Homo sapiens: one gene and its partners. The protein of the gene in region 3 purifies or fractionates together with the protein of the main gene of each other region. This does not show direct contact. Each region holds a gene or a part of one and is shown on either strand. Other genes may lie near its edges. The genes, in order: STK40, DET1 and ETV5.

Evidence for each region.
Region 1: the proteins of ETV5 (region 3) and STK40 purify together in Homo sapiens (affinity purification with mass spectrometry; 3 studies listed by BioGRID and IntAct, with this or other methods). This does not show direct contact.
Region 2: the proteins of ETV5 (region 3) and DET1 purify together in Homo sapiens (affinity purification with mass spectrometry; 3 studies listed by BioGRID and IntAct, with this or other methods). This does not show direct contact.

The regions. Positions count from the first base shown.
Region 1 is NC_000001.11:36,351,241-36,354,989, forward strand, and holds part of STK40 (serine/threonine-protein kinase 40), read right to left. Parts: intron 3,177-3,749; coding exon 3,124-3,176; intron 1-3,123. UniProt on the Homo sapiens protein: May be a negative regulator of NF-kappa-B and p53-mediated gene transcription.
Region 2 is NC_000015.10:88,532,965-88,536,713, reverse strand, and holds part of DET1 (DET1 homolog), read left to right. Parts: intron 1-332; exon of another isoform or gene 333-379; coding exon of another isoform or gene 380-402; intron 403-3,749. UniProt on the Homo sapiens protein: Component of the E3 ubiquitin ligase DCX DET1-COP1 complex, which is required for ubiquitination and subsequent degradation of target proteins. The complex is involved in JUN ubiquitination and degradation.
Region 3 is NC_000003.12:186,102,430-186,106,178, forward strand, and holds part of ETV5 (ETS translocation variant 5), read right to left. Parts: intron 3,514-3,749; 5' UTR 3,440-3,513; coding exon 3,395-3,439; intron 3,284-3,394; coding exon 3,196-3,283; intron 3,068-3,195; coding exon 3,020-3,067; intron 2,927-3,019; coding exon 2,876-2,926; intron 1-2,875. UniProt on the Homo sapiens protein: Binds to DNA sequences containing the consensus nucleotide core sequence 5'-GGAA.-3'.

The DNA of each region.
Region 1 (3,749 bases), on a different chromosome or scaffold from region 3:
ATCCAAAGCGGGGTGAACTTGTTGTTGCAGCTGCCTTGCCAACACCTCCCCCTGTCTGCTCCTTGAGAGCTCTCTGCTCTGCTGAGAAGGCCTCCAGCTGGTCCGCCTACTGCTCCAGTGGAGTTATAGCCTGGCATGATGGGTGGGAAGGGGCTGGAGTGGGCTGGAGCTCCTTCAGGTCAACTGAACGAGGTGAGAGTGGGGCCCCAGAGCGGAGGGTGTGCCAGAGGACACACACGGAGCAGTGAGTCTCTCTGCACCACACTACCCTGCCACTCTGGAGCGCCCATGACTCAAGTAAAAGGCAGCCAGAACCTCTGTCTGCCCTGAGACACAAAAAGGGGGATTTATCAGATTCAGGAAGTACAACCAGGACACTGGGTATGAGTGAGGCATTGGCATTCTGCACCCTGAGGAGCACGCACTCACACTCACAGCAGAGCTGCTACAGCCACGCCGGCGTATGCAGGGAGGTGCGACCCCTCGACTACACTCCCAGGACCAAGGGGCCCTGGGGAAGTGAGAGTTGGAAGCAAATCCCCCAGTGACACAAAGGGCCAGGAGTGCTGGTGTGGTTAGCAGGCATGAGCCCGGCAAGTTCCCATGACAACCCTGGGATGTTCATTTACAGCCAATGAATGGCTGCTGTGGAAGGTCTGGGAGCTCTCTAGTCCAGCTGGAGGGCACATGGGCTCTGCAGCCAGATGGATTTAGGTGCCCAAAAAATATGCTCTCTCTTTGTGAACAGTAAGCCTGTAGTCCACAGCAGGATGGGACTGGCCCAAGGCCCCAGAGAGGGCCAGGGGAAGGGGCAGGACCCAATTTCCCAACTTTATGACAACTGGCTCTCCACAGCCCAGGGCTGGTTTGCTCGGGGCTCCCCACCACCTCCTCTCATGATGCAGAGCTATGGCTGGGGGACCGCTGGGCCCTCACCAGGGGTGTCCTCGTTGGCCACTCAACATGCAGCAGGCCTCATCTCCAGAGATGTGAGCCCATGGGTCCTGTTCTCCTGTCTCTCAGCGACAGGCTCTCCAGTCCTGGCTACATTAGCACTGGGGTGTGCCCGTGATGCGCCAAACCCCATCATATTACGCAGCCTCACACCCACTGATTTGCATCTCAGGCCAATCTTCCCAGGAAGCCAGGATGACCTTCACTTTCACAGATGAGGAAATGGAAGCTCAGAGAAGTGCTTGGTACCTCAATATATGAATTCAATCAGTAAGTACCCAGAGGACCACACTCTCACGGTCTCCAAGATAACGAAGAAGTGGCACTGGGAAGTGAGCCAGGTCTGACCCCCATGTCAGTGCTGCTTCCGTCCTCCTCAACTCACTCACTCAGCCAGTCCAGGGTTCAAGCAGCTCTGGAATTTCCTGTTTCCCTCCCTTCCCCCTGCAGAGCATAGCAGGGCAAGGTTCTCATCCCTTCACTTTCTCAGCCTGGCAAATCCCAACTCATCCTTCACGAATTGACTCAGGTGGCAGCCACTGTCCCTCCACATGTCCCTTGCCCTCTGCACGCCAGTCCTCCACACATGATACCATCTTCTGGTCAGTACACCATCAGATGGTGGGCTCCAGAGGGTAGTGGGAACCACTGAGCGTTTCTGTCTGCAGCCCCAGCACCAGGTGGTGCTAGTCGAAGGATGGAGAATGCTTAGCAGCTGAGGTGCACAGCATCGTCCCGATGGCCTCTCAGGCTGGAGCTATGGGATCTGGAACCCCCAGCAGTAATTCCCCATCAGTTGAGATGGGGCACAAGGCAATGCCCCCTCCCCGGAGGCCAACCTCCAGGCAGCTTCTTTTCCTCTGACCACTGTGGCTTTGGCCTCTTTAGAGGACAGTGGGCCTCGGGCCCTTCCTGGGCTGGGCTGGCCACATCATGGAATGAATCACCCACCACAACACTTCTGCTGTGAGATTCAGGCTGCCTTTGTAAGCCCTTCAACCTGCTCAATGCCGAGTTGAGAGGTGACAGAGGGGAGCTCAGAAATAATGGGTGGGGGCGGAGTGGGGGAGATGTGCCCTTCTCAGCCCTGCATTTCAAGGATCATGGTAGCCCACAGAGTGGGCCCACTTCCTGCTGGTCCTGGGTTCCTACATGGTTGGTGGTCCCTCTAACATGGTGAGACAGTGGTAGCACTGTCCCAGATCACTCCAAAGAGGCCCAGGACCCTCTGTCGAGGCGGGATGACAACCTGAAACCAGGGCCGTGCTTGGTGTCCCTCTGCTGCTGGTTCACCCCAACAAGGGTGGGCCGCCAGATCCCCTCCAAGTCTAAGGCATGCTCTCCTTGCTGCTGAGAGAGCTGGTGGCATTTTACAGGTAACCACTCACAGCTGCATCCCTCTCCAGGAGGCCCTCTTAGCCAAAAGAAGCTGCCTTGCCTAAGAGAATGCCCCTCCCTAAGGACAGCAGACATTCAGTGACTGATTGCTGTGGGGGCACAAAGGCCAAGCGCGGGCCATCTGCAGGCCATCCCACTCTCGAGTTTTTCAGGCTGAGGCCCTGCTGGGACTTCACTGCGGTTCAGCTTCTCCCTCTGCCTAATTCCACCCCCTCACCCTGAGAGCACTTCACAGTAAACCTTCTGCACGTAAACCTCAGAGTCTGTTTCCTGAGGAAATTGACCTATGGCAAGGCATCATTTTGCTCGTTCCTTCACCCCATTTGTCCATTCAAAAAATATATATATTTTTGTAGAGATGGGGTCTTCATTATGTTGCCCAGGCTGGTCTCAAACTCCTGGGCTCAAGTGATCCTCCCGCCTCAGCCTCCCAAAGTGCTGGGATTACAGGCGGGAGCCACCGCACCTGACCATTTAGTCCATTTTTATAGTAATTTTATGAGTACCCACTAGGAGCCAGGTGTGACAAATAAATGGACAAGGGAGATCTAAAGTTCTTCCCAGAGCTCCCTTTCTGTGGCTCAAAACTCCCAGTCTCAGCAAGCCCCCAATTCCCATGTTCATCCCATCCCGAGCCCTGGGATTCCTGGAGGAAGTGGGTTGTTTTGAGTCGGAATCCTCATGAGGACACTTCAGGGCACTGGAGAGTTGCAATGTGTAGCCTGCCCCAGCCCCGGGGTAACTGTATGGATGTAGAGACAGGGATCTTACCTCTTGTTGAGCACCATGTTCCCCAGCTTCAGGTCTCTGTGCACGATATTTTTCTGTAAAACAACAGGCGTATGGTTTACATTGTCAATGTGAGAGGTGGGGTCAGGGCCCACCCTGTAAGATGGGGGCTCTCCAGGTGTTCGAGAAGGCAGGAAAAATTCTATGATGTGTCTCTTTAGGCTCCAAGCACAGGCAGATCAGGACAGTTCTAAGTTCGCGTGACCTGCGCGTCTGGATGGGGAATGAATGTGCACCTAGTCAGTGTCTCCCCATCTGTGGCAGCTTCTTTAGCTCTTTCTCCCCTCAGGGCAGTGGCTGGTGGCGAAAGTCACTCATTTTTTCCCCTCCATTAGACATTCCATGGACAGGATGGATCTGGGGGTCGGGGAGGAGCTGTCATGGCTTTGTGACTAAGTACCACAGGCTCGGCCCACAGAAGCGGCACACCGGGAAGAGGCTCAGGCTCTCCTATCCTTTGTCCCAGCGTGCCTGACACCTCTAATCCTACAAAAAGCTCAGATGTGCTGTAGTTGCTTGGGTGGGTATCTCACTGTCATCACTACATGGGGGTGGACACCAGGCCTCTTAACTGATGGGGAATTAACACAGTTGGCTGTGGTAATTAC
Region 2 (3,749 bases), on a different chromosome or scaffold from region 3:
CTGCAACCTCTGCCTCCCGGGTTCAAGCAGTTCTCCTGCCTCAGCCTCCTGTGTAGCTGGAGTCCCCGCCACCATGCCCAGCTAATTTTTGTATTTTTAGTAGAGATGGAGTTTCACTATGTTGGCCAGGCTGGTCTCGAACTCCTGACCTTGTGACCTCCCTGCCTCAGCCTCCCAAAGTGCTGGTATTACAGGCGTGAGCCACTGCACCCGGCCAGTTTGTTCCTCTTTTACTTTGTTTAGTGTATTCTTATTCTTCAAGGCTCATACCAATTGTTGCTCCATTAATTATTTTAACATATTTATGAGCGCTTAACTGTCCCTTCTCCTAGGTGCTGGGAATACAGCAAGGAATTAGACCAGTTCCCTGCTCTCTGGTATGGTGGGACAGATACTAAAAAGGTAAACAACTTAATTTCAGGAAGAGATAAAGACCATTAATAATATAGGGTGTATCAGTAAATTCATGTGGGCAGACGTAAGGTGCCTGGGGAAGATTTCTGAGGAGGTACTATTTTAGCTGAGACTTGAATGATGAAACAGAGGCAGATCTTTCAGCACTTAAATAATGTTGTTCCACTTCTTTCTAACTTCCATGGTTTCTGATGAGAAATCTACAGACATTTGAATTGTTGCACCTCTATAGGTGATACGTGGTTTCTATCTGGTTACTTTAGAGGTTTTTACTGTATATCTTTTAGTTTTTTCCATTTTAGCTATGATGTGCCTGGGCATGGATTTCTTTGGATTTATCATATTTGAGGGTCTCTGAACTTCCTGAATTTGGGGGGTCTCTGAACCTTTTGAATTGGAGTTTATATCTTTAGCCAAATTTGGGAAATTTCCTTCCTCCTTCCCTTGCTTCCTTCCTCTCTCCCTTCCTTTCTTCTTTCCTTCCTTTCTTTCATCTTTCTTTTTTTCCCCTTCCTTCCTTTCTTTCTTTCTTTTTTTCTTTCTTTTGACAGAGTCTCACTGCATTGCCCAGGCTGGAGTGCAGTGGCATGATCTCAGCTCACTTCAGCCTCTGCTTCCCAGGCTCAAGTGATCCTCCCACCTCAGCCTCCTGAGTAGCTGTGACTACAAGTGCACACCACTGTGCCCGGCTACTTTTTGTATTTTTAGTAGAGATGGGGTTTTGCCATGATGCCCAGGCTGGTCTTGAACTCCTGGGCTCAAGCAATTTGCCCATCTCAGCCTCCCAAAGTTCTGGGATTATGGATGTGTGCCACCACCACCAACTATTACAGCCATTATTTCTTAATTTTTTTTTTTTTTCTTAGCATTCTACTCCTCAAGATCAGGGTGTTACAACTTTTGATATTTTCCCTAGGGCCCTGAGGCTTTACTGACTTTTTTTCAGTCTTTTTATTTTTTCCCTCTTTTGTTCACATTGGGTAATGTATACTAATCTATCTTCAGGGTGACTGACTCATTTCTCTGATGACTTCATTCTGCCCTTGAGCCCATCAGTGAGTTTTTTATTCTTTTTCAGAATTGTTTTTAAATTTTTAAAAGATATTTTACTAGAGTCTATGGAAGCTAGAAGAGTTTTGTATGCTGGTTATTGCTTTTTCAGCTCTAAACTTCTTATCTGGATCTTTAAGAAATATCTTCTGTTTCTTAGCTGAGACTTTGTTTTTCCATCATTTCAAGAGTGTTTGTGATTACTTATTGGAACATTTTTATAATAGGTACTTCAAAATCTGTCTCAGAGAATTCCAACTTTTGTAGCATCTCAACATTGGTGTCTGTCAATTGTCTTTTCTAGATTGAGTTTTTTCCTAGTACTTCATATGCTGAATGATTTTGGATTGTTTCCTAGACATTTTGAATATTATAAGATGATAGGGCTTGTTTAAATCCTAAGAGGATGTTGGTGATTTTTGGCTTGGTAGGCAATCTACCTAATTAGCTTCAGGGAATTTGCAATTTGTAACTCTCTTTAGGCTATGGTTCTAATGGCAGATGAATTTTCAGAAAGTCTTTGCAGTGCTATTTGGATCTGTCCCATGTATGTGACATTCAGTGGCCAGTCTGCAATCTGGGTGTTGATTATTTCAGTTCTCAAAGCCTTTAGTATGATTTGGACCAGATCCACACGTGTGCAGCTTGGGAGTTCATGAACAACTTCATGATGTTACTTTTCTGAGCTCCTCCCCATCTGATATCTCCCCAGTACCTTCTGGTTCCACTGGGGTCTCCCTTTTGATCCTCTGATGACAAAATTGGGGCTTTAATTATCCTTCCTTGCAACACACTTGCTCTTCAAGCAGCAGGAGAACCAGGGGAGACAATGTTAACCTCACTGCCCATTCAGTGGTACTTTATTGTTAGCCAATTGGTTTTTCTCATATGCCTGTCTTATGCATTCTGTCTAGGTTTTATAGCTGCATTTTTAGTGGGAGAGAGAAGGTGGTGTTTGATTATTCCATCTTATCTGGCAACAGCTTTATAACTTAAGTTTTTCACTAAATGCCGTTGACTTTTATGGCCTGTGATTTAACTTTGATTTGAATCAAGGTATAATAAAACAATTAGAAGACTTTGCCATATAATAGATGCCCCATAAATATTAAAACATATTTTTATTGTGATTTTAAAATAGCCTAACATTTACCGTCTTAACTGATTGTAAGTGTACAGTTCAGTAGTATTAAGTATATTCACATTGTGAAATTGATCTCGAGAAGTTTTTCATCTTGAAAATCTGAAAAGTCTAACCCATTCAACAGCACCTTCTCTTTCCCCTCCTGCTAGTCCCTGGTGACCACCATTCTTCTTTGTTTCTGTGAATTTGATTCCTTTTTCTTTTTTTAATGATAAGTATTTTACATTAATTTTTTTTTTTTTTTTTTTTTTTTAGAGATTGGGTCTTGCTCTGTTGCCCAAGCTAGACTCAAACTCCTGGGCTCAAGTGGTCCACCTCAGCCTCCCAAGTAGCTGGGATTACAGGTGTGTGCTATGGCACCTGGCTGTTAAATTTGATTACGTTTGATACTTCATTTAAGTGGAATCATACAGTATTTGTCTGTTTGTGATTGGCTTATTTGACTTCACATAATGTCCTCAAGTTTCAGTGATGTAGCATATGTCAGAATTTTCTTCCTTTTGAAGGCCGAGTAATATTCCTTTGTGTGTATATACCATATTTTGTTTATCCACTCATCCATCAGTGAACTTTTGGGTTGCTTCCATCTCTTGACTACTATGAATAGCGCTGATATGAACATGGGTGTGCAAATATCTCTTAGAAATCCTGCTTTCAGTTATTTTGGATTTATACCCAGAAGTAGAATTGTTGGATCTTATGGTAGTTCTAATTTTCTTCAAGGAACCTTCATACTGTTTTCCTTAGTAGCTGTACTATTTTTCAGTTCCACCAACAATGCACAAGGGTTCAACTTCCTCTATGTCCTCAATGAAACTTGTCATTTTCTTTTTTTAAAAAAAGCAGTCGTTCTAATGGGTGTGAGGTGATATCCCATTGTAGTTTTGATTTACATTTCTCTGATGATTAGTGATGTTGAGCATCTATCTTTTCATATGCTTTGTGGCCATTTGTATAGGAGAAATGTCTGTTCCAGTACTTTGACCATTTTAAAATTGGGTATATGATTTTTTGTTATTGAGTTATAGGAGTTCTTTATATGTTCTAGATATTAACCCTTTATCCAATATATGATTTGCAAATATTTTCTTCCATTCTGTAGAAAGCCCTTTCACTCGGTTGATTGTGTCCTTTGATCACA
Region 3 (3,749 bases):
CAAGACCAGCCTGGCAAACATGGTGAAGCCCCGTCTCTACTAAAAATACAAAAATTAGCCAGGCATGGTGGCAGGTGCCTGTAATCCCAGCTACTCGGGAGGCTTAGGCAGGAGAATTGCTCGAACCTGGGACGTGGACATCCCAGTAAGTGGGCCGAGATTGCGCCATTGCACTCTGGCCTGGGTGACGAGCAAAACTCTCTCTCCAAAAAAAAAAAAAAAAAAAAAGGTTTGCTTTCCCCTGGCAAATCTAAGTTTGGCTTATATTCATTGGTTAAGTGAGTCAAACCAACTCATAAGGTTTCATTAAATTTGAATGAGTTTTCTTCCCTCCCCTGAAAAAAATCACGAGCTCTTCCAGAAAATGACTGGAGTGAAGCTGGTCCTGAACTCGAGGCTGTGGAAAGCGCTCATGGAAAAGTAAGTGCATGCAGCCGGCTGTGGGCTCTGCCAGCTCCTCCTCATGCTTCTGGCTGTTGGTCTGAACTGCAGGCAAACAAACTTGCTTTTGCAAGAATGAATGGCTCAAAGATGCACCACCCACATTTGTGTTCTTGCCTTGCTTCTTAAGCAAGTTATTCTATTTGAATCTATCCCTTCTTGAAGCTCTACCTCAAGAAATAAAGTCAGAGGGAAAGAATCATTAGAAGACCTTTTCTAGGCTAGTCAACCATCTCTTTTATCCTTAAAAGACAGAAAGGCTCAACCTTAGGCAGTTAAAACAAAAAGTAAGCAAAGTAAAAAAAACATCATACTTGGTAAGCAGAAACATCTCCCAAATTACCTCCACTTGAGGTATGGAATTTTAATTAAAGAACTTAGCACATTCTATTTGCTGAGCAGAAATTATTTCTAAAGAGCCAAAACACATTTATTGATTTCTTCACTTTAGCCTATTCCCACAGATAAATATCTCTCCAAATATAAATCCTGCTTGCTGACAAAGAACATACCCTTGCTTCAGCACATGCAATCAATTTGAATGCAGCCATCTCATCTCCCTTTTAACTCTTTTGGGTTACAGAGAAACAAACAAAAGTGTCATAAAAGCATTTCAAAGAACCTCTGCCAAGAAAGCCACCTCCCAAACAGACTGCAGTTTATGCTGCTCTGAGCAAGAACTGGAAAGGCTGGGCCAAATTGTCAACACAGAACAAAGTTGGATTACAAACCCTGTCTTTCATCTTGCAAACACACACACACACACACACACACACACACACACACACACACACACACACTTGGATTATCTTTATTTAGTCTTTCAGTGGCAAGCTTCCCAATCACTCGAAAGCAATCAAAGGGCAATAATTAACATGCATTTACTCTCCCATAGAACACATCCACAGCAAGCTGTGACAAAGCTAAGGTAACCATGCATGTGTGTGTTCCAGTTTATTCCCTTTTACAGTTTCATGGCATTGTGCCTTGGACATGAGGCCTATCATTAAGGAATGTTTAGCTGTTACCTCTGCTCTTACATTTAAAAGATTTGGAATACCCAACTTTTTACTTAGAGAGAGACCTAAGATACTCTCTCTCCAGTGGCATTTTTACACACATACACCCACCTACCCAGAGATAAAACAAAGCTGGGAAGAATCTGTTGGTCCAAAATGAGAAATTGAGTCCTTGCATGGCTCAGGTGCTTGCTATTATAAACTATGACTAAGAGACATGAATTTCTCTATGATGCAACTCTCAAGAGAGGCAGCATTTTCTCCAGGCCTCTCTTAAACCTGCTCATTCGCCAGTGACTAATGCTCTCTAGAGCAGCCCTGTGCTGCTCAAATTTCATCAGCCGGCTTTGTCCTTCATAACTCTGCCTAGACCATAAAAGCTCCCAAACCTGTTGAGGACAGCCCCAAAAGATCAGTGCAAAGTAACCATGCCCCTGCCAGTGTTGAAAGCCATCTTTTGAGCTTCCCACTGCATTTTCTCTCTAGTAATGAGCACTTAGTGGCCATTTTAAGAAAAAGTTTCTCTTCTCTGAAGAGAAAAGCCACAGCAACTACACGAAAAGTAAGAGTAAATCAGGCCACTCTGTGACCACCCCTTGTCAGCTTAGGGGTAGAGACAAAATTGACAACATGTTGGATGAAGCCAAAGTTAACTGGAGTTTTCCATTAACTATTTTCTGCACCTTTAAGAAAAAGAGAAATATCAGGTTCATGATTCACATCAAGGACTTAATTTATAAAACAAACCCCAAAAAAGCCATAAAACAATGTGTGATTAATAGATGCTTGGCCTAACACCAAATATATTTTGTCAGTTAATTTATAATTTTGAGCTTAAAGCTTTGCAATATTCTTTTTTTTTTTTTTTTTGAGATGGAGTCTTGCTCTGTTGCCCAGGCTGGAGTGCAGTGATGCGATCTCAGCTCACTGCAACCTCCGCCTTCTGGATTTAAGTGATTCTCCTGCCTCAGCCTCCTGAGTAGCTTGGATTACAGGCGCCCACCACCACACCTGGCTAATTTTTGTATTTTTAGTAGAGACGGGGTTTCACCATATTGGCCAGGCTGGTCTTGAATGCCTGACCTCAAGTGATCCACCTGCCTCAGCCTCCCAAAGCCCTGGGATTATAGGTGTGAGCCACTGTGCCCAGTCAGCTTTACAATATTCTTAAGGTAAAAAGAAATTTAGGATAAAATTATGTTCAGTAAATCTTACCTGCAATACAGTAGAAATACTTTAGAAATAATTTTATTATGAAATAAAAGTTTTCAGGGTTAATTCTGAATTATTAGAAGAAACTAAATGCATACTACTGTCTAAATCTGGCCATAGCTGAAAAAAGCATATTCTAGACATGGATGATCTAAGACCAAACAATTTCAGAACAAATGTGCCATCACCAGAAAGGTACTTACGGTTATCAGACTGAAAATCTGGGACAAACTGTTCATCATCAGGAACTTGTGCTGGAAAATAGATTTTTATTTTAGACCTTTAAGTTTTATTAAAAAGCACAGTAAAATGTTTTATATGGAAAATAGGACATCCATGAAACTTGCCTTCAGCTAACCAAGCCTCTTGAAGTTGACTGAGATCCTGAAATAGCTCTGAAATTGAAAAAGAAGACCCCAGAATGAGGATATTTCTTTCGCTAGGGAGAAGACAGGGAAGAATCTACACGCTACTGTCACTGGGAGCAGGGAAGCCACAACATAATCAGGGAAAGCTTTACTACCTTCAGAATCGTGAGCCAGATCTGTGTCCAAAAACTTCCTCTTTCTGTCAATCACAGGCCGCCCTCTGCATTCCTCAGATCGAGATTTCTGAAAGAGGCCAACAGAAAGTGAAGGCTCAAGTGTAGTAAAGAGGTCCACAGGGGGAAGACTCATATTGGAGAGGGAGGACAAAACAAACCAAAAGCCACATAAACTTACCCCTGGGACCATAAAAGGGACTTGCTGATCATAAAACCCGTCCATGGTGCTTTCAGCGTCTCTAATACCACTTTGAGAGGTTTCAGCATTGAGTAATTTCTGGGGGAAAAGGGATCCTCCTGTAATATGAATTTGGGAGATTTTAACTAAGAGGGGGGAAAAAAAGAAATGAAACAATTTTAGACTGCCTTTTTTTTAGGGCCTGTGCAAAATTATTACCCTTCTGTGAAGTACTTAAAACCTACTCAAGGTGCAAGCTTTACACACCAATGCCGGGCTTGATTAATGGTATCAGAGGTACAGGATGTACTCCGTGCCAAATCCATTTACCCAGTCATCATTTTTTCTTTCTTAT